Linked DNA regions of Homo sapiens: region 2 is linked to region 1. Evidence: fine-mapped expression QTL. A gene starts in region 1. The other region holds a variant in brackets. All regions are shown on one strand. Distances are from middle to middle.

What was found. PIP is the estimated chance that this variant, and not a neighbour inherited with it, causes the effect. A credible set is the group of variants that fine-mapping cannot tell apart.
Region 2: its variant is the best candidate, but not a certain one, in a credible set for the expression of EIF4E in rectum (CEDAR, PIP 0.79).

The regions. Positions count from the first base shown.
Region 1 is chr4:98,927,865-98,930,780 of GRCh38, reverse strand. It overlaps EIF4E (eukaryotic translation initiation factor 4E), which reads left to right and starts at 1,648. Exons shown (of 7, transcript NM_001968.5): 1 at 1,648-1,686. The coding sequence starts at 1,669. RefSeq lists an enhancer at 55-1,254.
Region 2 is chr4:98,887,438-98,890,353 of GRCh38, reverse strand. EIF4E (eukaryotic translation initiation factor 4E) reads left to right here. Exons shown (of 7, transcript NM_001968.5): 4 at 2,402-2,465. Among named protein-coding and RNA genes, the nearest start is that of EIF4E, 40 kb to the left of the region's middle. The variant TG/G (reference allele first, on the strand shown) is at 1,196.

The DNA of each region.
Region 1 (2,916 bases):
TCAGGTAAACCAAAACATATGAACAGGCAATGGCTTTGAGTTCTCATACAGCCTCAATTATGTGTTAGTCAACTCAAGCATCCATTATGTACTCAATAATAGGTATGACACAGCTCTGGACCTCATTAACACTATAAGCAGACAGGCACAGGCAGCCTGCATACACTCCTTTTCCTGGTGTCAACATTATTTAAAAGCATGGGAAATAGTAATGAGACAGTGTCTTCTTCATTAGAACCTTAGGAGTCTACTAGATTTCTTCATCTCTATTTGTTGTTATTAGTAGCCAAACTGTGCAAAAAACACGGTCTTGAGAAATGACAGCACAGTATCTTAGAGGGAAAGGAAATGTAGGATGCCAGTGTGGGGACAAATTTCTGATTGCCAGTGATTGTTGTGAGCATAACAATAATTTCATGAACATTAAAGCCTCTATTGAGGGCAGCTGCAGTTGTAAAGGAAAAAAAATGGTCCTGAACATTTAAAACTACACTGGTGTACATCATAATCAAACAAAGTAAACAGAAAAAAATTTAAACTTTGCTAAAAAAAAAAAGCAGAAGCACTTGATCTTTAGGAAGGCACGCAGTTGCTTATTATGAATCATTTCTAGAGTCCGATGCATTTTCAAAGCCGGTTACAGTCATTACGAAGCACACCCTTGTGAGGTAAGTGTATCATCACCTTTGGTTCATAAATAAAAAAGCTGAGACGCCGAGCGATTAAGTCACTCGCCTAAGGAGAATGAGTCAACGTCAAGAGTCATAGTTGACCCGGCCTAAAGACTCCAGACCATCAGTCCAGGGCTTAGTCAGCGGGGCCCGGAGTGGCTTCCCTGGCTGGCATCTGGACTTAGGCTATTTCCGTGCACGTAAAAGCGGAATATTGGAACGGTTGCACAGAACTTCCAAATAATTTTTACCGCCACGCAAGATTTAGCCCTGAGGTCTTAATCTCAGGATTTGGGACAGTAAAAGCTGTCGTCCCTCCCCCTCGTCCAGCCGGTGGCAAGCGGGTACTGCGGGCGGTTCCGTCCGTCCCCTTTCGCAGAAATGGCAACGAATGACCACCAGCATTAGCTGAGCCAGGGGACGTGGGAGGGTTGATTGCCTAAACGACTCTGCATCGCCGCCTCTTTTTGAAACTAAGAGAAAATGGTGGGAGATCAAAAGAAAACTAAATAAACACACAGGCAACTTGTCCTGGGACCTCAACTAAGCAAATGAAGCCTTATTGTGTGTGCTGAGCCTGCAGTTCCCAACCTTCCGGGGAAGATGGGAGGACAGGGCGACAAAGGGCACAGTAGGCTTGCCTGGCAGTAAGTGTGACCGCAGCTATCCAGGCGGAAGAGCAGAGGACTGAAACCACCCTCCAGCAAGCGAGTGTCCGCCGCGTTGAGAACCGCGCACCCTACCCATCGGCCACGTGACCAGTCCTTTTTAAAAAAAATTTCTTTACCTTAAAAAAAAAAAAAAAAAAAAGGTGGGGGAGAGACTCCACTTCCCAGAAGCCTCTCGTTACTCACGCAGCCGCAGTCTTGCGCAGGTGCCGCCAGGGCCAAACGGACATATCCGTCACGTGGCCAGAAGCTGGCCAATCCGGTTTGAATCTCATTTTTTTCCTCTTACCCCCCCTTCTGGAGCGGTTGTGCGATCAGATCGATCTAAGATGGCGACTGTCGAACCGGTGAGTATTGCCTTTGGCCCCCACCCCCACGGGTCCCCGCGCTCCGTCTTCCTTCTGACTGGGGGACTCCGCGGGACGGCGTTCCCGGCGCGCACTGTACCCCTTGCCGCCCCTTCCCCTTCATGTTGGACCTGACCTCCCGCGGACAAGTGGGGACGTCCCGGAGGATGGCCGAGGCGGCGTGTAGCGCACACTTTCTGGTGGGGGCCCGAGAACTGGGGGAGCGGTGTGGGGGAGGGGCGGCGTGGCGCCTCCTGCGGAACCGCGAGGTGTCTACAGGGTGGAGGGTAGCTGGGGTTCTGGGCTGGGTATGCGAGGATGGTGTCTTCATGATAGGAAGGCGCAGGGCCGGCTCCCAGCGAGTACTGGGATCCGCAGGCAGGGTGGGCGGCGAGCCGGCCTGGAGTGAGATGGAGGAGGGAGCCCTGGAGCAGCCTTTCCCTCCCTGCAGAACCCCAGCTCCGGGGCTCGGGTGCGGGGCGCGCGCACGTCTTCCTTAGACCGGTGGACTGGGGAGCTGGTGGGCGAGTGTTGCCGGAGGGTGGGTTAGGCGGGAGTGGTGCCGCGGCACGCGCGGAGGAGCTTCGACCTCGCTTAGGGGAGTTGAGAGGGGCGAGCGTCTGTTAATCCAGCGCGCCGGAGAGTTGCCGGTGTTTGCGCCAGGGGAAGCGAGAAAGGTCTGGGGTGGGAAGGAACACTCGTGTGTCACGGTGAAGCTCTCCAAGTAGAATGAGGGATGGTGGTGGTGAGAAGGGGTATCACATTGTCCTCGCCCCTCCATGCTTGGGACTGGGCTGTCATGGAGGAGGGAAGGGGGAGGAGCGAGGCCTACAGATCGCTGTAGCCGGTCGGCTTGCCGGCCGGACCTGCTGCATTTCACACGCGCCCGTCTTCCATTCATTCATCCTTTCCGCGTAGTGCGCACGCCTCAGAGAATGCGAATGGGTCTCAATCCCTCTGTTCTTCCGAGTCTTTATCTCCTGGAAGATTTCTGAGACGCAGTTTATTGGAAATAGAAACTTTTAAATTTACTTTTCCATTTGACTTTTTTTTTCTCTTTATCTATGCTACAGACTTTCATTTCAATTTAGGCACCATTTTAAACTTAACTGAAGCAAGCTGGTCCCAGGGTAGGTTTGTAGTTAATCTTTAAGCAGAGGGTATATTTTTCATAATTTGGGTTTGCCAGGACTGGCTCACTGAAACTTCTGGGCCCTGTTGCCTTTTTAG
Region 2 (2,916 bases), 40 kb after region 1:
TACCTAGCAGTTATCTAAATATTCTAACTTGTACATCTTTTTTTAGGATCATATACATGCTGAATTAGTGATGCTACTCTTATGTTTTAATGTAACCCCCTCAAGATATTCTGCTCATACAAAGAAATAGATTGTGGTATAAAATTTATACATATGTATGTACATCTTCAACAGCAGAAACAATATTTTTCTGTATATTTCCAGTGCTTGGCTTCTAATAGATATTTTGTATTCATTTGTGTTGCTGAAAAAAGCAAAGCATACGATTAAAACCATAAACTTTGAGAGTATTTGAGAACATTCATTTGAGAGTAAACTTTGAGAGTATTTATTTTTTATTAAAAGCATTGACACTTAATAATAACTACATTTAAGGCCTAATAATTTATAGGTCTAGTTTTCTAGTTAAACTAGGATTATTATTCTTTGCCCATCATCAAAACATCAAGTAGTTTTTCTTCTCTAGTTTTGTTTATTCAGGACTCTTAAATAACTCCAGTCTTCTGCACCCCCCAAAAAAAAGCTTTTCATTCTCCTACAGAGAAAAAGGAAGCCTTGAGCCACCTTCCCCAATCAGATTTGCATTTATCTAGTTTGTTTGGCTTTTACCAGTTTACATAATTCTACCTTCTAATTAGAACAGTTCTCCATGCTTCAGTTACATGTAGTCAATGTCATTACATAGTAGGTTTTTATACCATAACTTAGAGATATGAAGGATTTTTCAGTTTTCTATAAATGTGTGGGCCACTTCCTAATTTCTGTTTTTTTCTAGCAAATTTATTGCAGATAACCATTGAGTCCTTTTGTATTTATCCAGACTGCATAGTCTTAGGATTCTGTTTAGATGTGCCATTATAAATTCTCATGATGGACTTACTTGAGAGACCTTTGAGCACCACAGAAGAGAAAGGAGGCAGCAAAAGGGAAAAAGTATTTTATTGAAGGTCATTCCCACAATATCCATTCATTTTATGACATTAGTAGCGCTAATTTTATAGTCACTTAGTATCCCGTCTTTTTTTGTTGCCTAGTGGAGGCTGTCATTGATGATGTAGTTGGGAGTTACCATTAGGTAGTGACTCAGCAAACCTTATGTGGTCTTAGGTTGTCTCACCTAAACTATATTTGTGTGTTATACTATGGAATTTGATTTAAAGATGCCAACTTCTTTCTTAAATCTTTTTTTTTTTTT[TG/G]AGATGGAGTCTAGCTCTGTCACCAGGCTGAAGTGCAATGGGGTGATCTCGGCTCACTGCAACCTCCGCCTCCTGGGTTCAAGCGATTTTCCTGCCTCAGCCTCCCTAGTAGCTGGGATTACAGGCGCATGCCACCACGCCCGGCTAATTTTTGTATTTTTAGTAGAGACAGGGTTTCATCATGTTGGTCAGGCTGGTCTCGAACTCCTGACCTCATGATCCACCTGCCTCGGCCTCCCAAAGTGCTGGGATTACAGGCGTGAGCCACTGCACCCGGCCCTTAAATCTTTACCTGAAATATTCCTAGATGGGGTTAACATAGCACCAGGAGAACCAGACTAAGGATAGTAGAATCATCCATGGTCTGTAGACACAGCTAAGATCATTATTTCTGCCATCTAATATTGGAGACAAGCAAAAGATTCTTAAGAGTTGCCAATTTTTAAATCAATTTTGCTGTAAAAGACTACAGGAGATCAAATGATCTAAGCCTCCTACCTTCAGGCAAGCAACTAAGTCATCGCAAATGTTATTCTGTTATTTTGATACTTGGGAAATAGTTTAGAAATACAGACTGCAGGGTTCCATCTTATATTTAGGTGATTATAATCCCAAGATGTAGGGCTTGTAACTATATTTATTTATTTATTTTTCTAAAATCAGTTTTAAAATGATTATTATGTTGACTAACCAGTGACAGTTTGTGGTGTTTGGGAACCGTTGATCTATTCTACTCTTGGATACCTTCAAGGATAATGACTGTTTCAGTCATGCAATCCTGATGGTCAGGAAGTTCATCGTTTCTGGTTTTTGTTTTTGTTTTTGTTTTTGTTTTTTTATGTTTGTGAAAAAAACTGTGTATTAACTTCAGAAATTATTTCATCTACTTAAAGCCACCTTATACCTCTCTTCTCAGTTTCTTATATATATACATATGTATGCACTGAGTTAACTAACATAAAATATATTTTTGTCAGAGCAGTCACTAGAAGTTTTTTTGAAAATTATACCTGTCATCTGAAGTTGATTATTTAACTGCTTTTAAGATCTGTTTTGTCCATTTTAGAAATTGACTCCTTAGAAACAAGTAAACATGAACTTTTATCTGTTTATTTTCATCATATGTTCTAAATGTATATATATGTAAGCACCTAAACTCTATATTACATATTCTGTGTTTTTAATTGTTATTTTCTTTTACCTAGTCTGTACAACCATATCCAGTTGTCTAGTAATTTAATGCCTGGCTGTGACTACTCACTTTTTAAGGTATGCTTAATTGGTGATTTTATATATTTATTATAGGACTGGGCCATTTGGTATTCATTAAGAAATCTTACCATAAACTTAGGAATATTTGATAGTGTGATGAATAGGCTGATAATTTAATTGGCTGTAGTATGCTTTAGTATCAATATATCTTATTCTATTTGTTTATAAAAATTGAGAGAGAGTTACTCTGTGGGCACATACTGAGATTGATTTTGATGAGAGCTTTGATTATCCAGTCTACTCCTTCCTTTATATATTTGAGCAGACTGAGTTTATCAAGCATTCTTAACCTTAGGAGCATGGGTCCTTGGAATACTTATTATTGGGCTTTGTCAGTTGGTAGAGGGACGGGACATTCATTAACTGAAATTGCATAGTTTTTGCATGTATTTTCTAGCTGTAGAAATGTACAGAGCTTCTAAAATATGTTTGCTTCTCAGAAAGTTTA